Linked DNA regions of Homo sapiens: region 1 is linked to region 2. A link means that fine-mapping ties the variant in region 2 to the expression of a gene that starts in the linked region. Tissue or cell type: tibial nerve. Region 2 holds a variant in brackets; the other region holds the start of a gene. All regions are shown on one strand. Distances are from middle to middle.

Evidence for each region. PIP is the estimated chance that this variant, and not a neighbour inherited with it, causes the effect.
Region 1: TWIST1 starts here. The variant in region 2 is fine-mapped to the expression of TWIST1 in tibial nerve (GTEx, PIP above 0.99).

Annotation. Positions count from the first base shown.
Region 1 is chr7:19,113,777-19,121,886 of GRCh38, reverse strand. It overlaps TWIST1 (twist family bHLH transcription factor 1), which reads left to right and starts at 4,251. Exons shown (of 2, transcript NM_000474.4): 1 at 4,251-5,216; 2 at 5,756-6,419. The coding sequence starts at 4,566. The coding sequence ends at 5,174. RefSeq lists enhancers at 2,241-3,104, 4,178-4,961, 4,985-5,244.
Region 2 is chr7:19,486,235-19,494,344 of GRCh38, reverse strand. No RefSeq gene overlaps it. Among named protein-coding and RNA genes, the nearest start is that of MIR3146, 220 kb to the left of the region's middle. The variant A/G (reference allele first, on the strand shown) is at 3,749.

The DNA of each region.
Region 1 (8,110 bases), 370 kb after region 2:
TCTTTCATCAGTTATTCCAGCAACTCTTTGATACAAGTGAAGTGAGTGTGTTTTCCAACAAGGTTAATGGGCAGCTAAGACACCAACTCTCCAGCCTGCACAACCCCTGAAAAAAAAAATGAAAAAAAAAAATGCTCTTCAAGACTCCATACTTTTCCATATTCTGATCCTGCACTTTCTACAGGTTAGACCTATGTCTCCTCATCCCATCCTTAAGCTGAGTTCAGAATGTCAGCTATTTTAAAGATTAACATTTATTTGAAAATTTCACTTGCGGTACTGTTCGCACCCTAATTTATTGTGTTTTTTACTTTTTCGTTTTATTTCTGGATTGAAAACTTCACATTTTATAACTTTAGTTTGTTTTTTTTACTTTTAAAGATATTCAGATAGAAAAATGTAGAATCAGTTGAGTTTATGAATCAAATCATCATTTAAAGAGAAAGAGAATGAGTTTTTATATAGGGAAAGGTGTTCAAACATCATTAAGGCTACCAGGGTCATGAAAGAAGAATAAGCTTTTACACAGTTATTGTGTTGACATACATGACTTTATATTCCACCTTACTAAAATTCTCTCATTTAAACAGCAGTCCCTCTGGAGTGTTCAAAGCAAGATGAAATCTAAGATATACAACCTCATCTGATATTCACTCAATTGCAGCCTTTCTAATTTTCACTCCCTTCCGTGCGAATGCTCCTGTGCACTATTTATGCAATTCAGATAAATTATTTCTCAGAACTCGGAGCCAACAAACAGGTGATAGGCCATCTAAGGTCTGAGGAGAAAGAAGAGTAGGAACAGATTGAGGTACTCACCTTTTATGCAAGCCCAAACTCCAGAATTTACCAGTTGGCTAACCATTCTATAGTGTGTGTTTCTTTTCCGTATCTAAAAGTATTTATAATTGGTTGTTGCTAAGAGAATGTCACAGCATATTCAAACTGCCAGGATACTTAATACTTATTGTATATGTTCAATGTGAGATTTCTAACTCTGTTACTTTTAACAGTATTTTTTGTTTCAATTTTTAACACAGCACACATTCCTCAGGCAGGATTGCAAACATGCCAAGTTTGCAGTTTGAAAACAAAGATCGTTTTGAACTATCCAAGTACAAAAGAAATTTTTTTTTTCAGTTAAATTTTTTTGGGGAGGACTTTACTTTAGAAGGAGGCAAAATGACTGAATTCCAGTTAATCTAGCATTCCCAAAGAAGGTAGTCCCCACTGACATACTTCCAGTTAGGCTAACTTCAGCCTCAAAAGAAAATTTCTAAGATTGTTTTCATGATCTCAAGATTGGGATTTTAGAAAGAAGCTTTCAAATTTAAACTAAACATTGCAGAAGTTGCAATTATTGTTGCATATATAAGAGAATCCAGAATTATACCTGACCTGTCAACAAGTAAAAAGGGAGCCATCCTTGCAAATGTGGAAAAGAAAATTGTTAGGTAAAATGTTAGATAAGAAAGAGCTGTATATGAGCAGACTGGACTCGTCAGCCAGGGCGTGTTGCAGTTTGCAAAGCAGGGAGTATCTAGCTCCAGCCATTTTTTGAGAGGTACCTCCTGGACTACTTTTGCTCCAAAAGTAACATTCAAGCCCCACTTAAGAACTCAAAAGTCGTCTCATCCTCCACTCCCCGGAACAGTTCAAGAGCCATTTCTTCTTAGAACTAGTCATCAATTGTGACTGTGGCTGAAAGAGTCCATGGGCAGGATGGTTCTGGTTAGGTGTTCATTTTGAATTCCCCTCTCAGTATTCTGGCATCAGAGCGTCGCCTGAGCCTTGCGGGGATCCCTGTACCCAATGGCCAGGAGCTCTTCATCAGCTAGAAGTTTAGTGCCGGGAAAAGGGCTGGGCTCACTTGTTTAAGAACCAGTCTTTGAGACTGATGACTTTGCAAGATGGACTGGCTAATGACCCCTGGCTGCTGCGCTGCTGTGGACTTGGTTTCTCCTCTAGCTTGTCCGCTCCCCTCCCCTTCCCAAATTCCCCTTGGTCAGGTAAGATTTCCTTTACACTTTACCCACACTTTCCTGTCTTACTTATCCGTGGCCACAAAGGAAAGAGTCCAATCATTCGATCTCTTTATTTATTTTTGAGAAAAGAGAAAAAAAGAACAAAACAAAAATAAGATTTATCTTTAAAAAAATAGCTGAAGTGGAAAAGGTTTCGAGATTTCTGCAGCCACGTTCTAAATAAGAATTGCAGAATACTGTAAATTCAGATTTACAAAAAGAACACTTGGTGGAGAGTGGGGCAGAATTTCTGCCGCATTCTCTAAGCGCTTCCAAGAGATAAAATCCTGTAGCGGAAGATGCAAACGCAAGGGTGCAGGGGTGACTGTTTTGAGAACTGCTAGAGTGCTACTGAAATTAAGTGGAGGTCAAGTCGAATCTGATTTTCAGACAATTTTACAGTAAGGCAGCGGCTCACTAAACAGGCCAGTTGACAAGCTGTAGTCACTTTCTGAGTATTTCTGTAAAAATGGTAAGGGATCAACTCTGCAATTTGTCCCTCCCATGAAAGCACAGTCTTGTTTACACCTCGCTGGAGAAATAACACTCGCCCTCACTTCTCCCAAAAAGCTGAACCCTTCAGTCGGCCCAAGCAGCTCCACACCCTGAGGTTTCCAAGACCAAAGCTGCGAGTCTCAGCAGGGAACAGCCACGTGGCCTGCCTGCGCCTCGCCTGGGCTCTTGCCTTCAGCTTGAGATATCTGCAGCCGCGAACCTTGCTCCAGCCCAGAAAGGGGCGCTTTGCTCAATTAATTGTTCCCGCCGGCGAGTCCGTACTGAGAAGCCCATGAGCGGACCTTATGTGCAGGGTACTCCAGCGCGGTGCACAAAACTCGTCGCCCCCAAACGCTGCCCCCACCCCAACACTGTGTACTGACTCCAGCTTTTTACTTTGCCATGTAAGGGATGGACCTGAAACGGTTATTTTACCTCAATTCATTTCAAAAAGGAAACAAGTATGGCATTGCAAAAGATGGGCTTCTTATCCAAGGCGACTTCCTTTCTGGTTCACCAACTTTGCTGCTTCCAGTTTGCCAGGATCTACATTAACACCCTCTTTGGGGCTCTTCGTTTTAACTTACAGACAGAAATGCTTAAAATGTTAGCGTATCCAAGCATTTGGAATTGGGGCTCACGAAGCCTAATTGTCCACTGGATGCCCTAGATAGTGGGGGCTGGGGCGGGGGGGGTCTCAGAGCGGGCAGCCCCTATGTCTAGGCGCTATCAAATTCCCACTTCACTCTCTTACAAGCTGGCCTTTCAAGGTCACAATGCGGAGCCTAATTTGGGGGTGGGGATGAAATGGCCACAGGGTCTCTCCCTTGGGTTGGCATTGCCAGCTGTTAGGGCCGCAGCAAAGGCGCTGCGCTGCCCCCCTCTGGCTCTGCTGCCTTTCCCATGGACTGGGTTTCCTTCCACCGAAGAGTGAACTTCTGCCTCTTTCGAGCACCTTCCGAGGCGTAGTCCTTTGGATGTTGGGGAGCGTCAGACTGGGTCGTTGTAGAGGGGAAAGGAGGGCCCAGAAGGGCGAGAGAGCAGGCCGGGACGCAAATCCTCAGCCCCCGCGGCGCGGCCACGTCTTCAGAAACGCCCAGGACCTCCGGGCTGGGCCGCCGCGGTTTGGCCTTTGGAACTCCAAGGGGTTCGTCTACCTGACCATTGGGTGGGCTCCGCGGTTGACACTTTTCTTGGCATGCCCCCCCACCCCGCGCCACACCACCCCCCCAGCCCCAGCAATCCCAAATCGGCCCCACGGACCTAGAGGGCTCTTGGGCGAGATGAGACATCACCCACTGTGTAGAAGCTGTTGCCATTGCTGCTGTCACAGCCACTCCGGATGGGGCTGCCACCGCGGCCAGGACAGTCTCCTCCGACCGCTTCCTGGGCTGCGCTAGGGTTCGGGGGCGCTGCCCGCACGCTCCGGCGGGGAAGGAAATCGCCCCGCGCCCGCCGGAGGAAGGCGACGGGGAGGGAAGGGGGAGGGCGGCTAGGAGGCGGGTGGAGGGGCCGGCCGCCCGGGCCAGGTCGTTTTTGAATGGTTTGGGAGGACGAATTGTTAGACCCCGAGGAAGGGAGGTGGGACGGGGGAGGGGGACTGGAAAGCGGAAACTTTCCTATAAAACTTCGAAAAGTCCCTCCTCCTCACGTCAGGCCAATGACACTGCTGCCCCCAAACTTTCCGCCTGCACGGAGGTATAAGAGCCTCCAAGTCTGCAGCTCTCGCCCAACTCCCAGACACCTCGCGGGCTCTGCAGCACCGGCACCGTTTCCAGGAGGCCTGGCGGGGTGTGCGTCCAGCCGTTGGGCGCTTTCTTTTTGGACCTCGGGGCCATCCACACCGTCCCCTCCCCCTCCCGCCTCCCTCCCCGCCTCCCCCGCGCGCCCTCCCCGCGGAGGTCCCTCCCGTCCGTCCTCCTGCTCTCTCCTCCGCGGGCCGCATCGCCCGGGCCGGCGCCGCGCGCGGGGGAAGCTGGCGGGCTGAGGCGCCCCGCTCTTCTCCTCTGCCCCGGGCCCGCGAGGCCACGCGTCGCCGCTCGAGAGATGATGCAGGACGTGTCCAGCTCGCCAGTCTCGCCGGCCGACGACAGCCTGAGCAACAGCGAGGAAGAGCCAGACCGGCAGCAGCCGCCGAGCGGCAAGCGCGGGGGACGCAAGCGGCGCAGCAGCAGGCGCAGCGCGGGCGGCGGCGCGGGGCCCGGCGGAGCCGCGGGTGGGGGCGTCGGAGGCGGCGACGAGCCGGGCAGCCCGGCCCAGGGCAAGCGCGGCAAGAAGTCTGCGGGCTGTGGCGGCGGCGGCGGCGCGGGCGGCGGCGGCGGCAGCAGCAGCGGCGGCGGGAGTCCGCAGTCTTACGAGGAGCTGCAGACGCAGCGGGTCATGGCCAACGTGCGGGAGCGCCAGCGCACCCAGTCGCTGAACGAGGCGTTCGCCGCGCTGCGGAAGATCATCCCCACGCTGCCCTCGGACAAGCTGAGCAAGATTCAGACCCTCAAGCTGGCGGCCAGGTACATCGACTTCCTCTACCAGGTCCTCCAGAGCGACGAGCTGGACTCCAAGATGGCAAGCTGCAGCTATGTGGCTCACGAGCGGCTCAGCTACGCCTTCTCGGTCTGGAGGATGGAGGGGGCCTGGTCCATGTCCGCGTCCCACTAGCAGGCGGAGCCCCCCACCCCCTCAGCAGGGCCGGAGACCTAGGTAAGGACCGCGCCGCTGCACCCCTTCGCCTCTCAGGTGGCAGACGGCAGGCCGGCCAGGCCGCGGTTCCCAGTCCACCTCGATTTCCTCCCCTCTCCCACTCTCCGCTCAGCCTTCCCACCTCACTTGGCACCGTTGCCTCGCGCCCCCAGCGTCCCCGGAAGGCCGGTCTGACCCCGCTAGGGAGAGCAGTCTCCAGGGGGATGCGCCCTGGTGAGGGGTGTGTGTGCGCGTGAGTGTGCGTGACAGGAGGGGAGACAGAGACACCCAGGGTCACGGGTAAGGACCGTTTTGTCAGCGCCACCCTTTCTTTCGGCTTTCAATTTTTGTTCTCCTTAAAACAAATGTTTTAAAACAAATTCCACCTCCTCCTCCTTTCCACCCACCCACTTCCTCTTGCCCTTGGGCTGAAATCCTTCCAGGTTGTTCAGCTTAATTTCTCAGTGGTGGTGATAAGAACAGTGCTCACTAGTCTTAGAAAACAGCCGCAGAGACCTAAACAATAACCGACTCCCCCCCCCCCCTCTGGGTTTTTGCAGATGTCATTGTTTCCAGAGAAGGAGAAAATGGACAGTCTAGAGACTCTGGAGCTGGATAACTAAAAATAAAAATATATGCCAAAGATTTTCTTGGAAATTAGAAGAGCAAAATCCAAATTCAAAGAAACAGGGCGTGGGGCGCACTTTTAAAAGAGAAAGCGAGACAGGCCCGTGGACAGTGATTCCCAGACGGGCAGCGGCACCATCCTCACACCTCTGCATTCTGATAGAAGTCTGAACAGTTGTTTGTGTTTTTTTTTTTTTTTTTTTTGACGAAGAATGTTTTTATTTTTATTTTTTTCATGCATGCATTCTCAAGAGGTCGTGCCAATCAGCCACTGAAAGGAAAGGCATCACTATGGACTTTCTCTATTTTAAAATGGTAACAATCAGAGGAACTATAAGAACACCTTTAGAAATAAAAATACTGGGATCAAACTGGCCTGCAAAACCATAGTCAGTTAATTCTTTTTTTCATCCTTCCTCTGAGGGGAAAAACAAAAAAAAACTTAAAATACAAAAAACAACATTCTATTTATTTATTGAGGACCCATGGTAAAATGCAAATAGATCCGGTGTCTAAATGCATTCATATTTTTATGATTGTTTTGTAAATATCTTTGTATATTTTTCTGCAATAAATAAATATAAAAAATTTAGAGAACCTTAGAGTTTGGTCTATATTTTTAAAACTAAAGATTAAGTTGGTGGTAAATACCTGCTTGTTTAATTCTAGAGGCACCCAGGAGGGAGGGGGCACTAATATAAACAAAGCAATGAAAAACTCAAATAAAGCAGCTACTGACAGGCACAAGCATGTTATTTTAAAAGACAGCTTTATTATTATTCCAGTTTGGTATTCAGAGGGCTTAGTAGCATCTCTTCATCTCTTACTGTCTCCAAACAGCAAAAACTTAACAAATTTGCTATTCACCTCCTTTTTATTTTGAGGTGATAGTTGTTAAAACAGTTAAATGCAAATAAGGAGTATAAAACCTGCACTATTCTCTTATTATGTACTTTTTGTCATGCTCTTCACTCTTTGTGAAGATTCCTAAATAACAGGTTCTTTTCAGTGAAAACATATATAGTGTTATGAAAATTATCTATACACATATAGAAATGACCAGAAATGCATAGAAAATAAAGTGTAAATCAGCAGAAAAGAGAAAATTCCATTTGTAATTTGCTTAACTCTTCTCTCATGAATGAATATGACGTTTAGTGTCATGTTTGCTAAAAAGAAAAGTTAATATATCGCTATATTGACGCTATTTGGGAAGCATCATTCTTTTTTTATGTGTAAAGAATATAAGGCTGTGGAATAATATACAAAAATGAAGATCCTGAACTTTCAGTATCCTTGGTAACTGGATATAATCACAGTTGGAATAATCACAGTTTTAAATACTACAGCTATGCAGTTACTAGTCAGTTCATTAGCGTTATATTTTATCCAGAATTACACAGAATTTTTCCCTGGTGAGATCATACATACACACACACACAATCTGAAGTTAAGTAAAACAATAATGGGCAAACGGGGGTGTTTGATTTTTTATTTCATTCTGATTATTTGTGGGCCAGGAACATACTGGCTTTTATAATTAACATTATTAGAAATAGTGATTTTGTATCAGTTCTTAGCTTTTACATCCGATTTACTGCATCCAAGTGTAACTGGGGAAGCTTTCAAACTGGAAAATCATTTTGGTGCCTGTTTCAAACAATGACTAATAAGTGTATGTATCCAAACAGATCGTTTTTGCTTAGCTCAGGTCAAAGTTATTTTATTGCCTGAAGGTTTTTGTTTTCTTCTTCACACAGCACCATAGAATGCTGACATAAGAATATTATGAATTTATTGTTAATATTTCAGACTATATTTTACAATAAGGAGTCTGCAGCATTGACTTGTATTAAAAGGTTAGTGAAAGCTTGGAGAAGTATTATTATTTTTTTATTTTGATAGTCCTTTAGCAAATAACAGAAAGGGAAGGCGATTATGTGTTGGTGTATTTGTTGGGGGTGTGTGTGTGTTGTGTGTAAGGCAGGTTAGAAATGTAAGGAGGGTGCCCTAGGAGGATGAGGGAAAGCATTAGGTTGGTAATTCTTTTTTGTATGTATCATCCAACCACCTCCATTTTCTAAATTATTCATGGGGAGTCTCCTTGTTCACTAGCTTGGTCTGACTATTTGATATTTCAGATTTCTTAAGGTACACCAGGATGGAGCTGGCCATGACTGCTGAGAAGGTAATTGTTATCTTAACTCTGGATATAAGAACTAGATGTGTCAAAGAAAGGTAGCTCTCCATTTGCCTTTCTTTTATTTCTTTCTTTTTTTAATGTGTTT
Region 2 (8,110 bases):
TCTTTGCTCAGAGAGGTGAAAGGAGAAAGATGTTTATCATCTCAAAACTACTGTGCTTCAGGGAATGCCATAATCACTCGCACATGCAAGGTATGTGCATGCAAAATAAAAATGGTAAAGTACTAGAAAACGCTGGGTGAAGACGAAGTTCTAGGTATTTCCAGTCGGATAACTGAGAATCTGGAGTTACTTAGTGCCGTTTGAATTCTCTCAGAACAATTGAAAGTTTGAGCTATGTCCAAAATTGACAAATGGAATCTAATTCAACTAAAGAGCTTCTGCACAGCAAAAGAAACTACCATCGGAGTGATCAGGCAGCCCACAGAATGGGAGAAGAATTTTACAATCTACCCATCTGACAAAGGGCTAATATCCAGAATCTACAAAGAACTTAAACAAATTTACAAAAAAAAAAAATCAAACAACCCCATCAAAAAGTGGGCAAAGGATATGAACAGACACTTCTCAAAGGAAGACATTTATGCAGCAACAGACACATGAAAAAATCCTCATCATCACTGGCCAGAGAAATGCAAATCAAAATCACAATGAGATACCATCTCACACCAGTTAGAATGGCGATCATTAAAGAGTCAGGATACAACAGGTGCTGGAGAGGATGTGGAGAAATAGGAACACTTTTACACTGTTGGTGGGACTGTAAACTAGTTCAACCATTGTGGAAGACAGTGTGGCGATTTCCTCAAGGATCTAGAACTAGAAATACCATTTGACCCAGCCATCCCATTACTGGGTATATACCCAAAGGATTATAAATCATGATGCTATGAATACACATACACACGTATGTTTATTGAGGCACTATTCACAATAGGAAAGACTTGGAACCAACCTAAATGTATATCAATGATAGACTGGATTAAGAAAATGTGGCATATATACACCATGGAATACTATGCAGCCACAGAAAAGGATGAGTTCATGTCCTTTGTAGGGACATGGATGAAGCTGGAAACCAGCATTCTCAGCAAACTATCACAAGGACAGAAAACCAAACACCACATGTTCTCAGTCATAGATGGGAACTGAACAATGAGAACACTTGGACAGAGGGTGGGGAACATCACACACTGGGGCCTGTCGTGGGGTGGGGGGAGGGGGGAGGGATAGCATTAGGAGATACAACTAATGTAAATGATGAGTTAATGGCTGCAGCACACCAACATGGCACATGTATACATATGTAACTAACCTGCACGTTGTGCACATGTACCCTAGAACTTAAAGTATACTAAAAAAAATAAGAAAAGAAAGTTTGAGCTATGTACATCCACATCCTCGTCTTAAAAAAAAAAAATAAAGCCTTTGCTACCAAGGCTCTAATTGCTATTATACGCTAAAAATGGTTATGACAAATCTATTCCAAGATAACTCCTTTTATTTTAATAACTTTAAAATTAACTTTCACATCTGCCATAATTTTTTTTATATTTATGAATATCCCATTCTATCAAAATTTTATTTTATTCCACATGCCATGCCTCTCAAGTTTTCTGTTTTCGTTTTGCTTTTTCTATCCAATTCTTAGAAGACCACTTGGCAAAGATAATGAGACATTCATCACCCAGTTGTGTGGAAGATGGTGGCAGGTTTGAGTGAAAGGAGCCTACCCTCATAGAACTTGCCATTTGACTGGGAATTTTCAAGAAGCCTACTGGTTTATCACAGTAAAAACATATTTGGAAATAATTTAGATTTGTGTTGCTCGTATACGTCAGTTTTCTTTTACCACTTACAGGTGAACACACTAAAAGCATAAATATACAAGCACAATTACATGAAGAAATGGAGTGTAGCCCTTGGTAAAACAGCAGCACAAGTTAATTTAAAATAACATTACGTATAAATATTTTCTATTTTTACGTTTACCTTTTTATATAAACTCACACAAAGGACTTCACCTTCTACAGCAAGACTTATGCTTTCCTTTTATGTGATCGAAGCTTAAAACGAAACTATTTTTGGACATTAGCTTTTCCCTAAGTATTTTTAAGGAGTACGAAGAGGAATTTCACTCTAAATGATATAAAACAGCTCCAGTTTCTTACTTTGAAAGCTAATTCCTACCACCAGTAGCTATCGCTCATTATTTGCCTTCTGCAGAAATATTTTCCAGTCAATAATATTTTAAAAAGTAAAAGGTCCAATTCAATAAATTGGAAGTTAAATAGCTCTGCAGAAACCTTATCACTGATATTCAGAATATAGTTTTACTGCTACATAAACAAGCCCATATTTAAGGGAAGTTTCTTCTGCTCAGCAGGATGTGTAATATTTAAGCTCGTGGCTAGAGGGAGCTCTTTTGTATCAGAAGCAATTACCTAAAAGCAAAATCAAATCTATGGAAAAAAAAAAAAAAAAAATCAAACTAATTTTTTTAAAAATTCAAGGCAACAAGTGATGAAAGTACAATGGATACCCGACATTTGATTTAAAGCTTGTATTCTTATCTATGTTTTTCCCTTGTATTAACAGCAACAACAACAAGAACCGATAAAGACAAAACCAAGTCAAGTTTAATACTTCCAAAGGGCAAGAGCCAAGGTCTGATGCAGCAGGTACCTCGAATTTATTTTCTACAAGTTGCCAGTCAGTTTATGCCAACTTAAAGGCTTGCTATCAAAAGCACATGAACTCACTTTAGAAAAAAGGGAAAGTGGAAGGAGATCAGCCCTCTCGTTTAGAAGTACAAGGGTCCGCCTCATGTGGCTAGAGAACACATGGAACATTTGTCAGACCTCTGGCCCTGGCAGCAGGACTTCAAAGCTGTGCTGCCACCTGCCACACTTTGCTTCCTTTCAACTGTTGCGTGGGAAAATGAGAGGCACATGTGAGAGGAACTCTTACAAAAAAGGGATGAGGAGGGAAAAAAGCTTACCCTTTTACCAATCAGTTTGCTTACTTTTGCCTTTTCTGTTTCAGACCACCGGGTGTCTGGAATTAATATATCTAGGGCCAAATCCACTTCAACTCAGCCACAGTTTTGGCAAACTGAGCTTCCACTGTGTGGTTTGGTGTGCCTTTGGCCTCTTCTGTCTGCTGGTCAGGTAGTTCGTTCTCTCTAACCATGAAATTTGTGGGCGAGATTCCTAAGCCTTTTCTTTTACTCTTTCCAAAGCACAGAAATTGGAGCATTAATATTTATTTAAAAATCAGAATTCTTGAGCATTGGAAAAATTTGTGGGGCTTCATGTCCCTACACTGGTGGTAGGTAGCTCAAGGGACTGACTGCTTGGGCTTGGGATATTTGCCAGAGGAGAGTTTCAACTTAATTATAAAAAGCCATCAATACCATCAAGTCCATCCTGGGTATGAACTTTTAACTGCAAGCCTAGAGGTCTTGACCACACACTAGGCCTTCTATAAACCCTGAGGTAGGCTCTGAGGGTGTTGTCTGTACTTTGCAGACTCCAGTGTCCGGGTTAGAAAAACAGGCAGCAGCTTTCTCAGAATGTTACAGTCATTTAAAATATTTACCTCTTTCTAAAGTAAAGGGCAATATTTTTATTATTTTATATGCTGCACATTTCAAATACTAACCAAGACACTAATGTGTAGAAAAAAGTACACTTTACAGCAAAAGGAGAATGACTTTAAAAGAGAACAATAAACTGGCTTCTGATATTTATTTGGGGATCTCAAAGCACCATCAGTAGTAACCTAATGAAGCATCCTGCCATCTTTCACAATGTAGCTTTTGGATCACTGGAATTCACGAAGGTGTTCC[A/G]GGTGGTCTGGGGACAAGCCCAAAATGCAAGTTACTCACACGCAACAACATATTTTTATAAATGTATTTTCCACTGCAAAGCTGATCCTGTGCTGGAAAGCATGAAAATGAGCTTTTTAAAAAAATCTAACCACAATAATGATTACAGAGCCAAGCAATAACACCACAAAATTGTACTGAAGCCTTTGTGATATGAAGGAAAGGAATACACTTGAGTAGGTGGTCCTCAGGGCCTTATGCCCTAAGGGGTCTGGGAAACTGTCCCAGGGCAGTGGAACCAGCAGAATTTTCTCAACGTCTCTTGCAGGTGAATATTTATCTTAGAGAATGGCTCACATTTTCCAAAGTTTGGGGCTTCTTGTTATTCTATTCTTAATATATACTTCTACATGAATTAAACATTGATTATATAATACTCGAAGTTTATCTTTTGAAATCTCTCTAAACTCAGGAGTAAACAGAAGTAAAATGTTTTTAGTTAGGGGAGCCACACACTTATGTAAACATAATCCTTATTCGGGATCACGCATTTATTTATCATGTACACAGTCAAGCTAAATTTGAAGCTGATTTTCAGAGGAAGCCTATGGCACAGTGGTGGTATTTAATAATGGTACCTATTACTATTTAGTGGACATTTTGGAGTGCGGGATGGAAGCTGCAATGTTCTATCATATCAAGGTAAGTTCATGCCAGATTGCTTTTTATTTGGATATATTTTGAGTTAAGTAGAAGCGGGAATGATGGAGAAACCTGTGGGATTTGTACTCTATAGCAAATATAATGCTACTAGCTTTATAGGAATTATCTTATTTACTTCTCACAATAAATCTGTAAGATAGATATTACTGATGGCAGCAATGGCCCATCTGGAGGGGCCACTGTGAAGACTCTGGCTGCAGCAGGGGAGGTGCAGTAGGGACCACATGCTCCACGGAGCTGGCAGGGGCCAGGAACAGGTGGGAGCCCTGTCCTTTTCTGAGTTGGCAGGGCAGGAGCCCCACCCTCCCAGGTGCAGTTGCAGCTGCCCAGCCACAGCTGTGGACCTGGACATTCCTGCACTCTCAAGGGCCTGGGAACACCCTTTGCCCCTGCAGGCTTGAAGGTGTCTGCTCCTGCTGCCTGGCCTCTCTGAACTCCTAGCACCGACTCTGATTTTGGAACAAAGCTGAGGCTGAGCCAGGTACTGTTGTGACCTGGCAGGTGTGCACATTCTTGAGGCAGCACTGACACACCAAACCCCTGCCAACTTGGCCCCCCTCTGGTCTTTAGACATTGATGATCATGGGAGGGAGGCTGAGGGGGACTGAGGGTGCTTGGCACAGGTCTGCAAGCACCCTTTGGCATGAACAGCCTGGGCACTGTGGACAGCAGGTTGATGGCAGCAGGAGGCAGACTGACTCCTAGGTGGAAACGGGTAGATCCCTGGTGAAGCACACCTTCAAGCTAGGGACAGCCTGAAGCATGGGGTCCAGGCTGTCAGTTCTGGGTGGAGTTCCTGGCCCAGAGCAAGAACTTATGGCGCTTTTTCTAGGCCCAATGATGGCCGTCCATGGACCAATCAGCATGCACATCTCCCTTCTGAAGTCCATAAAAACCCCGGACTCAGCTAGACCCACAGAGACATCAAGATGACCTGCCTGTGGATAGGAGCTACCTGCTCTGGGTTTCCTCTCCCCTAAGGACTGCGGAGATGTTGGAATGACCTGCCTGCAGATAGGAGCTACCCACTCTGGGTCTCCTGTCCACTACTGAGAGCTGCAGAGATGTTGCATGACCTGCCTGCAAATATGAGTTACCTGCTCTGGGTCTCCTCTCTGCTGAGAGCAGCAGAGACGTTGCGATGACCTGCCTGCGGATAGGAGCTACCCATTTTGGGTCTCCTGAGAGCTGTTCTGTCACTCAGTCAAGCACCTCTTCACCTTGATCACCCTCTGGTTGTCAGCATACCTCATTCTTCCTGGATGCAGGAAAGGAACTCGGCACCTGCTGAATGGTGAGACTGAAAAAGCTGTAACACAAGCAGGGCTGAAACACTGCCCTCCCCCGCTCACCATGTTGTGGGCAACAAGGAGAGAAGAGCTGAGGCCATTCTGGGAGCCCAGACCTAGGGGCTCCCTGAGCCAGGGCTGTAAGACCCTCTTTGGGGCTCTGTGGTTTCTGGTGTCTCCAAGCTTCCAGGCACCACTATGTTCCTCTCATCCAGAGACAGGTGCCTACAGCAGAAGCCACCCACAATGCATCTGATCCAGCTGAAGACTTTCATGGAGCCAGCACCTGTGGTGGTGCCTGTAGCTGCCCACCCCACCACAGCAGCCAGTGTGGCACACTGCATAGACCCCACACTCACTTGCTCACATGCCCCTTGCCTCTCTGCACCTGGCTTGCCCTTGGCAGTCATGGGATCCAGGCCAGTAGCATGAGGTGAGTGCAGTCTGCCAGGCTGAGTGGGTGGAATGAGCCCAGCAGGCCCAAATAAAAATGGGCAAAGGTGCCATGGGCCACCGAGGCTTCCAACTAGAAATGCGACACCCCAAGAGTTTCAGGACATTATTACCTAGGTTTTCAATAGACATGAAAACAAAAGCTCAGAGAAATTAAGTGATTAGTCTAAAGTCACATGTCAATAGAGGTAAGGTGCAAACTGCAACTCCCATGATAATATATCAAGGGTATTTCCATTACATCTTTTTAATCTGCCATCCTAAGCTTCCTCACAGGTTGGCTTCATTCTTGCCTGTTGCTGTCACTTATCTAAATGGTAGAGACTACCCCTTATCCACCAATAGTGCATAGAATTTAACAGTTGGCTTCATTTTTGCCTTCCACACCCACACTTCTGGGAATTTTACTACATTCTGGGAATGTACTTTTCAAGGTAAGTGAAAGCCTGATCTGGAAGAAATATTTTTACTTGGTTAAGAATAATCTGTGTATTTAGAGATTAAAGGTCAAATTCTCATTTGGAGTTTTTCAAGAACTTTGGGAGTATGTTGGGAGAGACAGTATTTTATGAGTCTCTTGCTTCCTGCAAGTCTTACTAACTTAACTGTGTCAAGAAGGTGAGGCCCTGACTGTTCTTTACACTAGTAATTCCTGAGGATTTTGTTTATGCAGTTGGTAACGCTGAGAGATAAAATATCTTTCTACTAAACAAATAGCAGGCTTTCTTACTGCTTGCTATAAAAGTAGTAGATTCTCCAAGGTTAGAATTTCTCTACTGGGATGCCAAACTGCTGCATGTGAGCATTCATCTGGACCATGCTTTATCATGGGACGTACAAATAAAAAAAAACTTTGGTAGGCAGAATTATAACTCCAAGAAGATTCCATACCTAATCCCTGAGAGAGTGAGTATAATGAGATACCATGCTTCTGAATACATTGCCTTACACAACACAAGGCATTTGCAGAGGTAATTAAGGTTACCAAATAGTTGACCTTAAAATAGAGGAATTATGCTGGATTATCAGTTTAAGCATAACATAACATGTTCATATCAGGCCTTATAAGAACAGGCCAAAGAGAAAGTCAAGGAAGTACAGGAGGAGAGGAAGTCAAAGAGATTCAGAGAAAAAGTATTTGATGTGCCATTGATCTTGAAAATGGAAGATCCCACAGGCCCGTGAATACAGGTGACCTCACAAAACTGAAAATAAGCCCTGCCCAACAGCAGCCAACAATCAAGGTCCTTAGTCCAACAACCACGTTATTTGAATTTAATTCTGCCAACAAATTTTTGAATGTGCTGCAAAATGTATTCTTTCCTGGAGCTTGCAGAAAAGACCCCAAGCCCACTGACACCTTGATTTTGACCTTGTAAGACTTTAAACAGATTATCAGCCAAGCCTCTGGACTTCTGATCTACAGAACTGAGAGATAATAATTGAGTGTTGTTTTAAGCTGCTAAATCTGTGGTAGCTTGTTACATTAGTACAAGACAACTAATACAGAAACCAATGCATATCTACTAATGCCCAAGTTGCTTGATAAGTTGTGAGTAACACATTCTTTGTCATTGACCCAGAAGTTCTGTGTCCTCTGCAAGCATCCATCAAACAGTAACAGGCCAACTAATTAGCTAACAACTAGAGGAAAATAAAATTGCAGACTCATCAGTGTCCAGAATTAGTAGATATTAGTGATAATGCCCCGTTGCGCTAATAGAGGCTGTATGGCAGAATGAAAAAAATATTAGAGGGGAGAAGACCCGGGATTTAATCCAGGTTCTAACACTTAATAGCTATATGATCTTAGACAACTTAATTGACCTTACTGAACTTCCATTTTTAAAAATTTAATATATATTAAATTGCTGTCAACATTAAATGAAATTATAAATATTTCATTATTCTACAGTAT